Regions from separate parts of the Homo sapiens genome. Here region 2 is linked to region 1. The links come from fine-mapping of genetic effects on gene expression. Tissue or cell type: whole blood. Region 1 holds a variant in brackets; the other region holds the start of a gene. All regions are shown on one strand. Distances are from middle to middle.

Region 1 (5,256 bases):
CTAAAGAATGCTGGATACCAGAACGGCCCGTCCTTCCGGGCTTCCGCTCAGAGAGGCCCTTTTGATTCCCTGCCAAAACTCACCAGTCCCGGGTCCCATTCTCCTGCTACTTTGTCACAAGGCAGTGTAGATGATTTGTTAAACCAGAGTGATCATTTAATAAGAGGTTGCATTGCTTTGGGGCGTGGCACTGGTGCTAGGGTTTCTGAACCAAGAGTTTGACCTGTATAGTTTAAATGCATCGTGCACCCAGCGGCAACAAGGATATTGGAGAGTGAGCACTACTGAATCTTCCAGCTTGGTTTGCTTGTTTGTTTATTTATTTATTTATTTATTCGGAGTTTCGCTCTTTCGCCCAGGCTGGAGTGAAGTGGCGCAATCTCGGCTCACTACAACCTCTGCCTCCCAGGTTCAAGCAACTCTCCTGCGTCAGACTCCTGAGTAGCTGAGATTACAGGTGCCTGCCACCATGCGTGGCTAATTTTTGTATTTTTAGTAGAGACGGGGTTTTGCTGTGTTGGTCAGGCTGGTCTCAAACTCCTGACCTCAGGTGATCCACCTGCCTCGGCCTCCTAAGCTTAGTTTCCTTCCTTCCTTCCTTTCTTTCTTCCTTTCTTTCTATAGTCTCTCTCTGTCGCCCAGGCTGGAGTGCAGTGGTGCGATCTCCGCTCACTGCTAGCTTTGCCTCCTGGGTTCATGCCATTCTCCTGCCTCAGCCTCCAGAGTAGCTGGGACTACAGGCACCCGCCACCACCCTGGCTAATTTTGTTTTTGTATTTTTAGTAGAGACAGGGTTTCACCATGTTAGCCAGGATGGTCTCGATCTCCTGACCTTGTGATCCTCCTCACCCTGCCTGGCCTGCCTCGGCCTTCCAAAGTGCTGGGATTACAGGCGGGAGCCACCATGCCCCACCCAAGCTTGATTTATTTTCAAGTCTGCATGCCTAGGCCCCCAAGCAAGCAGGCACAATTTTGGAAGGAAAAAGTCTTTCTGCTTCAGCCTTTTTTTCCCCTTAAATTGCTGAGGATATTCAAGGACAGGTGTTCCCAGTGTTGGGGACAGTTTGAAGAAGTAGGTATGAAGTGGGGTGTAGATCAGTACACAGACCCCAGTCCCCTGACTGAATTTCAGCTGCCTCAGGAGCTTGGCTTCCTGTGGGACCGAAGTCACGGGCATCCAGAGAGGGCAGAAAAGTAGCATTGGTGCTTGCCTTGGCAAAGAAGCAAAGTTGTTAGAACTTACTTTGGCCATTCTTTTGGAAGCCCTGATAGGTGAGAATGGCTGGGCAAACATGGGCAATTACCCCACGATGAGAGAGGACATGTTGGGTGGGGCATCCTCCCAGGGTCCTTCAGCCCTGACCTTCTTCCCACACAGAAGCCACTGCTGGGCTGGGCGTGGTGGCTCACCCCTGTAATCCCAACACTTTGGGAGGCTGAGGTGGGCAGATCAGGAGGTCAGGAGTTCGAGACCAGCCTGACCAACATGGTGAAACCCCGTCTCTCCTAAAAATACAAAAATTAGCCAGGTGTGGTAGTGGGTGCCTGTAGTCCCAGCTACTCAGGAGGCTGAGGCAGGAGAATCGCTTGAACCCAGGAGGCAGAGGTTGCAGTGAGCCGAGCACAATGGCAGGACGTGCACATTCTCAGGGCAGAAGTGAGCTTCTTCAAAGGACAGGTAGGAACTGGTGGCAGCACAGAACAAGTCCTGTGATTTCCAGAATGTTCTAATTTTGGCTTTCTGGTTCTCAGTCCCACAAGGTTGCCACCAAGGACCCTCTTGCCCTGCTGCAGCCACCTCGCCCTTCCTCCCTCACCCTGCGGACCTGACACCTTGGTGTGGGGAAGATGAAGGTACACTGATCCCTTTTCCAGACCCCTGGCTGCCCAGCAGTCCTGCAGTTTCAGGGCAGTGTTCCTGCAGAAACAAAGACAGAATGGCCCAGGCTGTGGAGGGGATCCAGGTGCAGAAAGGGAGATCTTAGCCCCCAGCCTCTCCCCTCCTCTCCCCAGACCTGGGGTGGGAGCATCTTTGAACCAGGGTGTTGGCCAGCCCCTGGCCTCTGCGTCTGCTTTGCCTCTTCCCCCAGGGATGGAGAAGCCCTGCCCACTCCACCTTCCCCCCACGGCAGACCCTGCTTCAGCACCTGCTTCAGCACCTGAGGTCGTCCCCATCCGTTCACTGAGCCCCAACTCAACAGCCCAGGCCAGAGGGGACCAAAGAGTAAAGTCGGTGGGAAGAGGAAAGAGAAGACATAGCTACACCCACCACCCCCAATACTGGGCCACGATGTTCTGCCCCCAACCCCTCTGCTTCACAGGCCTGTTCTCTTTCCACCAGCTTCTCCCTCTTCCACTCACTGATCCACCACTCAACTTCCCCACCTAATCCTCTTGTCAGAGCCGGTGCTCCCCTCCCCCACTTATCTTCCATCCTCCCCTCCCTGAGTATGGTTCCTCCCAACCATCCCACCTCCTCCTTCCCGTGCCCCTCATGTCACCTTTCTGCCTCCCCCCTCCCCACTGTGTCCACACCAGCCCCCCTCCCCTGACCCATGACCACCCTGG[T/C]CCCCCTCGCTCCCTCCATGCCCCTCCTGCAGCCCCGGCCCTGCCCTTTGCCTGCCCCCTCCAGCCACTGGTAAGGGGGAGCGGAGGGGGTCCCCAGCAGCCTCAGCTGGACCCAGCGGCAGACCCCGGAGTCTGGGCCGGACCTAGAGGGGGCGAGGCAGCGTGGCGGGGGGCGGGGGGCGGAGGGGGTAGGGGTGAGGTGGGGGAGGCGGGGAGGCCGGCGGGGGGAGGGGTGGCAGAGGGGAGGGGAGGCGGGGGACGCCTTGTGCAAACGCAGCAGCAGCACCTGGCCCGAGTCCTCAGGGAGCGTCACCTGGAGGTCTTCCTTTCGGGGGGCGGGGGAGTGGGCAGAGGGAGAAGGCATAGTAAAGAGTGGCTTATTACCTTTTGTTCCCCAGGACGCTTCCCCTTTCCACACTCTCATTCCGGAGGTCGCCATAAGCAACTTCCACAATTCTGGATGTTCCAGACCCACGACCGGACTAATTTTTGGTGGAGGGGGAGCAGTATCTTTATCTTCCCACTTTAATGGGTATGTTGATTCAAATCTTCTAACTAAAGTGGGGGGATTATATGGATCATTTCTATATTCGATCATAAAGGAGTCCCCAGCGCACCCAGCGTTTTGTCCGGTGCAATTTCTAGCAAAAGATTCCTTAGGAGCCCAGTCTATAATGACCCCATGAGAACCATTTCGCAAAACTACCGCATTATCTGCCACACAAACCTCCCAAGTAAGAATTTCTCATTTTTCTGACCATTCTGGATTCCTTTTAGGGCAAGCCAATCCCTTAGGCTTGCAATTTTGGACTTTTATATTTGACTGATAATAACTATCCCCTTAAGTTTTTACAGTCCTGATGGGTTGAAAAGACATTCCACTCACTACGTGATAACTAGGTTGAGAACGATTATGAGGAGGTACGTAGACCATCCAACTTTGTATTTGTAATGGCAAACATCCAGGAGCAATTCCTAAACAAACTGGAGGGTATTTATACCCAATTATCCCATTCATTAACATGCCCTCCTCCTCAGGCTATGCAGGACAGCTATCATAAGTCGGCCCAGGCATCCAGATACTACCATTTGTATAAACTTCAGTAGGGGAGTCCATCCAAGTGACAGGTCTAATCAAAGGAGGAAATGGAACATAAGCCCAGTAGTAAAATTTTGCTTAGCTGAAACAGCAGAGAGACTTACCGCCGTGGTGATTACCATCAAGGCAGCCAAGATCATATTACCCGGTGTAATCGCTAGTTGTTTCTCCTTTAGGGTGTCCTCTGCCAATTGAGTCAGCTTCTTTATCTGTCCCCATGTCAGTGGTGTAGCCTAGCGAGTCTTCTCCGTCTTCTGTTTTTTCTCCGAGACGCTCAGCTTCACCATTTTCCTCAGCTCCCGAAAAGACAGGTCGAAGGGACCGGTCTTCTTTCTCTTTTGATTCTTTCCTTTTTTCTGACCGGTCGGTGTAGGGTTCATTGTAGAATTTTAAATGTCTATTGGGTATCCAAATGAGTGTTTGATTGTCTCTTGGTGAAACACAAGGAAAACCCCTCCCCCAAGTAATACTTTTTCTTAATTTCCAAGTTTTGGTTCTGGTATCCTTCCACCAGACCATTTTTCCTTTCTGTGGCACACCCATGACTGCAAAACAAGATAATAAATGTCGTTTTACGTGAGCTGTGCTTTCTCCAGTTTGGCGTGTAGCCCAGATAAACCGAGAAAAAGTATTAACAGTAACATGTACGAAAGAAAGTTTTCCGAATGATGGGACATGAGTCATGTCCATTTGCCACACTGCATTTGGTTGAAGCCCCCTAGGGTTACCTTCAGGTTTTTGGGTGGGTAGCTGTAGCACTTGGCACTGAGGATGTTGTACTATATTTTTAGCTTGTTTCCAGGTAAATGAATATTTATTTTTTAATCCAGCAGCATTTACATGAATTAGGGAATGGAAGTTTTGAGCTTTTGTTCGCGTCTGTGTGAAGAGACCACCAAACAGGCTTTGTGTGAGCAACAAGGCTGTTTATTTCACCTGGGTGCAGGTGGGCTGAGTCCGAAAAGAGAGTCAGCGAAGGGAGATAGGGGTGGGGCCCTTTTATAGGATTTGGGTAGGTAGTGGAAAATTACAGTCAAAGGGGGTTGTTCTCTGGCGGGCAGGGGCGGGGGTTGCAAGGTGCTCAGTAGGGGAGCTTCTGAGCCAGGAGAAGGAATTTCACAAGGTAATGTCATCAGTTAAGGCAGAAACCAGCCATTTTCACGTCTTTTGTGATTCTTCAGTTGCTTCAGGGCATCTGGATGTATACGTGCAGGTCATAGGGGATATGATGGCTTAGCTTGGGCTCAGAGGCCGGACACTGTTAGAACAGGCGTCACTAATAAATTTGCTTGATTATTTAATAGGGTTAAAGGTCCTGGTAAGTTTGTGTGAGCCTAAATATGTGTAATATAAAAGGGAAAATTTTGAGTCCTAACTGCTTGTTGAAGTGAACTAAACAAGAAATTTAACTGATCATCAGAAATATGTTTTACTAAAGCTGTTTTTACCATTTTGGCAGCTTGGAATACGTAAGCAGAGTCAGAGATTATATTAACAGGTTGATTACAATCTTCCAATACAGATATAACTGCTTGTAGCTCAGCTCTTTGTGCAGAATGAAACTGAGTTTGAATAATCTTTTCTTCCGG
Region 2 (5,000 bases), 25 kb after region 1:
AATTAAAGTACACTGCCACCAGGTGGTGGCCAAACCCTTCCTCTCAGACTTGAATCCCTCTCACATAGAGATCTTGGTTAAATGCAGATTCTGATTTCTAACAAGCTCCCAGGCAATGCTGTTGCAATGGATCTGAGACCTCACTGTACGTTTTATAAGAGCCTAGAGTGTTGGAACAGAGTGAACTGAAAGACAGGAACAACAGCAAGAGCACACAGTTGTGCAAGACTTAGCAGCTGACCACCTACATTCTTAACCATTTTCTCATTTGTTCCTCCTAACCCAAACGAGATTGGTATTCTTAGTTTCTTTTACAGAAGAAAATAAGAATTGAAGAGATGAAAAAATTGGTCTAAGATCTCACAGCTCGTTTTGGCAGGGCCTAGGCTGACTCTGGGTCTCCATGGACACAGTAGATCTCAATGTCTATTCCCTCTCTTGGGGCTGTTGCTGCCAGATTTGGTGCAATGGTTTCCTTAGGGGTGGAATTCATGACACATGGAGAATCACCAGGAACCAAATGAGCCTGTGGCTGCTCTGATCCCACAGACCAGGAGCAAAAGCCTGCAGCCCAGGCTTTAGATAGCAGATGAGTTGGCCGGATCAAGATCTTTTGAAAATCTGTTTCTGAATGCAGTTCCTGGCTTTGTGCCAAGGGAATCCTCACTAGCGGCCCCAACTCCTCTGTTATCTCCAAGTCCCAGTTTTCCCCTGTGATCTCCAATGCTGAGCCCAGAGCACAGAGAGAGCCCCCATCTCACCCCTTGCTAGCCCTGGAGGGTGAGTTTCCTGGGGCTTGAAGGGCGTGTTTCTGGCTCTACTCAGATTTCTGGGAGGACACAACAAGCCGATGCATGAAAAAGTCCCAGGGCAAGGAAGACACCAGCAAAGGTAAGGCATTTAAAGCAGTTTCTTTCTCTTTCTTTTCTTTCTTTCTTTCTTTCTTTCTTTCTTTCTTTCTTTCTTTCTTTCTTTCTCTCTCTTTCTTTCTCTCTTTCCTTCCTTTTCCTTCCTTCCTTTTTTTTTTTCTTTTTTTGAGATGGAGTTTTGCTCTGTCCCCCATGCTGGAGTGCAATGGCGTGATCGGCTCACTGCAACCTCCACCACCCGGGTTCAAGCTATTCTTCTGCCTCAGCCTCCCATGTAGCTGAGAATACAGGTGCCCGCCACCCTACCCAGCTGATTTTTGTATTTTTAGTAGAGATGGGGTTTCGCCCTGTTGGCCAGGCTGGTCTCGAACTCCCGACCTCCAGTGATCCGCCTCCCTCAGCCTCCCAAAGTGCTGAGATTACAGGTGTGAGCCACCACGGCACCTGGCCCTAGAGCAGTGTTTTTCAAACATCAGTGGCCACCAGAGTCATCTGGAAGGCTTGTCAAAACAAAAATTCCCACTCTACACCCTCAGTGTCGTAGTAGGTTGGAGGTGGCCTGAGAATTTGCATTTCTAATACGTTCCTGTAGACGCTGCTGATCCCAGGAGCAGCTTTGATAGGAGAGGTGGAGGCAGGGGCTTTTAATCTCTGTCATGACCAGGACACTCAAGCTGCCCCTCATCGTTTGGGCACACCCTCCCCCATCAGTAACCCCCTCCTCACTGGTACATCTCCTGCCGGGCCTGAAGCTCCTCCTGGCGCTGTTGCTGGAGCACAGGGTGGTGGTCTGCCCAGGACACCTTGGCTGTGGGAGAAGGGGAGTAGGTTGGGGTGGGGAGAGAAACTCACCATCACTACCACCAGCCACACAGTCTCCACGATTGCCACCCTCTACCAGGTCCCCTCCTCCCATAAGTACAGTTTCTCCTACACCAGGCTGCTACCTCCCGCTCCCCAAGGCTCCGCCATTCCCTCTCCTCTGCCCGCTACTCTGTGGCCACACCAGCTCACCTCTCCATTTCACCTGCCCTTCTCCCCAACCCCCAGTCCCCTACCCCTTCCTGTGCTCCCCCTGCAGCCCCAGCCCGGCCCGCCCCTCACCTGTACCCTCCTGCAGCACCAGGGTCCCCGCCCCCTCCAGCCACTGGTAGCAGGGGAAGAGGAGGTGGCCGCCCCGCGGCGGTGTCAGCTGGAACCAGCGGCAGAACCAGGCATCCGGGGCCAGGGGCCCCAGCAGGGGCAGCACTGGGGGCGCCTTGTGCACGCGCAGCAGCAGCACTCGGCCTACGTCCTCCGGGAGCGTCACCTGGAAGTCCTCCTCCTGAGGGGAGGTTAAGTATGCGTCAGGCCGGACCCTCCTGCTCGCCCCCTTCACCTCCACCCCATCCACTCCCACGCACTCACAGCGCCCGCAGTGAACTCCTTGCCGAGATTGTCCAGGGGCAGTGGGGGGCTCTCTCCCCGGGTCCCCACGATGCTGACAGACACTTTGTCCCATGTGCCAGCCCCGAAGGCTTCTCCGGTGGACACCCTGACCCTGAACTCGGCCATGCTGCCAGCCTAAGTCCAGCTCTCTACGGCGCACAGGGCTGCAGAGCGGGGCTCCCCCCTGGGACACGCCTGGTTATTGCCCCTGGTTATTGCCACTGACTCCAAGCCCAGTGGACTCCTCTAAAAAGCACGTCCGTTTCAGGGCGGGGAGGGGCGGGGCGGAGAGGCTGGAACACGCAACTAAAGTGGGGGTGGGCGGGGGATTGGCAGCGCTGGGAACAGGAGGGACTAAGAATACCCTGAGGTTTGGGGAACGGGGCCTTTCAGTGGTGGTGCCAGGCCAGAGAGCCTAGAGTTGGGACCCAGTTGGGGTGGGGGTAGATTTGTGCCCACCACGTCTGTTTGTTTTCCTTCTTAGCCTTAGAAGTCTATGCAAAAATATCACCCCATTTCCCACAACTCTTCTTGGGCCTGCGTTCATTATTTTTAAAATTTATTTATTTATTTATTTTTGAGACAGAGGCTTGCTCTGTCGCCAGGCTGGAGTGCAGCAGCATGATCTCGGCTCACTGGAACCTCCTCCTCCTGGGTTCAAGTGATTCTCCTACCTCAGCCTCCCCAGTAGCTGAGACAACAGGCGAGTGCCACCATGCCCAGCTAATTTTTGTATTTTAGTAGAGACGGGGTTCCACCATGTAGGCCAGGATGATCTTGATCTCTTGACCTCATGATCCGCCTGCCTCGGCCTCCCAAAGTGCTGGGATTACAGGCGTGAGCCACCGCGCCCAGCCTACATTCATTATTTTATTTCATTCAATAATTAATGTTCAGAACTACCTCTGTGCCAGGTGCTATGCTCACTGCTATTGATAAAGGCCCAGGCAAGACCTAGTGCTTGCTCTCATGGAGATTAAAAATCAAGTGTGAGGCCAGGCACAGTTGCTGGCCAACATGGTGAAACCCCATCTCTACTAAAAATACAAAAAAATTAGCCAAGCGTGGTGGCGGGCGCCTGTAGTCCCAGCTACTCAGGAGGCTGAGGCAGGAGAATAGCTTGAACCCGGAAGGCGGAGGTTTCAGTGAGGTGAAGTTGTGCCATTGCACTCCAGCATGGGCGACAGAGCAAATCTCGGTCTAAAAAAAAAAAATCAAGTGTGAGAGAAAATAAGTAAACCAACACATAATTTCAGATGATAATAAGTGCAATGAAGGAAATGAAACAGACTAATGTGAAGGAGTGAGAAGCAGAGGTGGGAAGGGAGGCGTTCAGAGCCTCAGAGGAGGTGAAAGGATCTGTCTGGGGAACAGAGTTTTGTGCAGAGGAAACTGTTCCTGAAGAGGCCCTGTGGTTAGGAAAAGCTTGGCTTGTTGGAGGAGGGAAAGGCAAGAGTGCAGTGAGGGAGGGATTTGGGGGAGAGATGCCAAGGGGAAGTTATGGATTTGGGCTTTGGGGGAATAACATAACAGATTTGGGGTTTTCGGTCTGGAGATGCTAAGTTTGAGATGGCCATTAGACATCCAAGTGGAGAACCCACGTCTGGGCATAGAGCTCAGGACTGCAGGTGTGCATCTTTGAGTCACAAGCACACAGGTACATCTATACCACAGGCTGGTGGAGATCACTAGGCAGAGAATATCCTATAAGTAGAGAAGAGAAGAGGCACAAGCTGTGCCCTAAGGTCCTCTGATATTTGGAAGTCATGCAAAGGAGTGGAAGCAGCAAAGTTCAGTCAATGAGGTAGGAGGAGAACGATGCCGGCAGACACTTTGTCCTCTTGTGCCTGTCACAGTGTTTCATGAAAGCCAACTGAAGTGAGAGTGACTTATCATGTATATTCCATATATACCATGGAATACTATACAGCCATGAAAAAGAATGAGATCATGGTCAGGCATGGTGTCTCACACCTGTAATCTCAGAACTTTGGGAGGCTGAGGCAGGCAGATCACGAGGTCAGGAGTTCGAGACCAGCCTGACCAACATGGTGAAACCCCATCTCTACTAAAAATACAAAAATTAGCTGGGTGTGGTGGTGACTGCCTGTAATTCCGGCTACTCAGGAGGCTGAGGCAGGAGAATCATTTGAACCCGGGAGGCAGAGGTTGCAATTCCAGCTACTCAGGAGGCTGAGGCAGGAGAATCACTTGAACCCGGGAGGCGGAGGTTGCAGTGAGCCAAGATCGTGCCACTGCACTCCAGCCCTGGTGATAGAGCGAGACTTCGTCTCAAAAAAAAAAAAAAAAAGAATGAGATCATGTCCTTTGTGGGAACATGGATAGAGCTGGAGGCCATTATCCTTAGCAAACTAACACAGGAACAGAAAACCAATATTGCACGCTCCAGTTCTTACTTTCAATTCTTTAGGATATATACCTAGTAGTAGAATTGCTGGATCATATGGTAACAGTATGTTTAATTTTTTTTTTTTTTTTTTGAGACCGAGTCTCGCTCTGTTGCCCAGGCTGGAGTGCAGTGGCGCAATCTGTGCTCACTGCAACCTCCGCCTCCTGGGTTTAAGCGATTCTCCTGCCTCAGCCTGCTAAGTAGCTGGGATTACAGGCGCCTGCCACCATGCCCAGCTAATTTTTGTATTTTTAATAGAGATGGGGTTTCACCACATTGACCAGGCTGATCTT

The links. PIP is the estimated chance that this variant, and not a neighbour inherited with it, causes the effect.
Region 2: it holds the start of ALOX15B, and the variant in region 1 is fine-mapped to the expression of ALOX15B in whole blood (INTERVAL, PIP above 0.99).

What each region holds. Positions count from the first base shown.
Region 1 is chr17:8,061,576-8,066,831 of GRCh38, reverse strand. No RefSeq gene overlaps it. Among named protein-coding and RNA genes, the nearest start is that of ALOX12B, 24 kb to the left of the region's middle. RefSeq lists an enhancer at 1,984-2,485. The variant T/C (reference allele first, on the strand shown) is at 2,569.
Region 2 is chr17:8,036,579-8,041,578 of GRCh38, reverse strand. It overlaps ALOX15B (arachidonate 15-lipoxygenase type B), which reads right to left and starts at 2,520. Exons shown (of 14, transcript NM_001141.3): 1 at 2,277-2,520; 2 at 1,974-2,193; 3 at 1,596-1,677. The coding sequence starts at 2,423.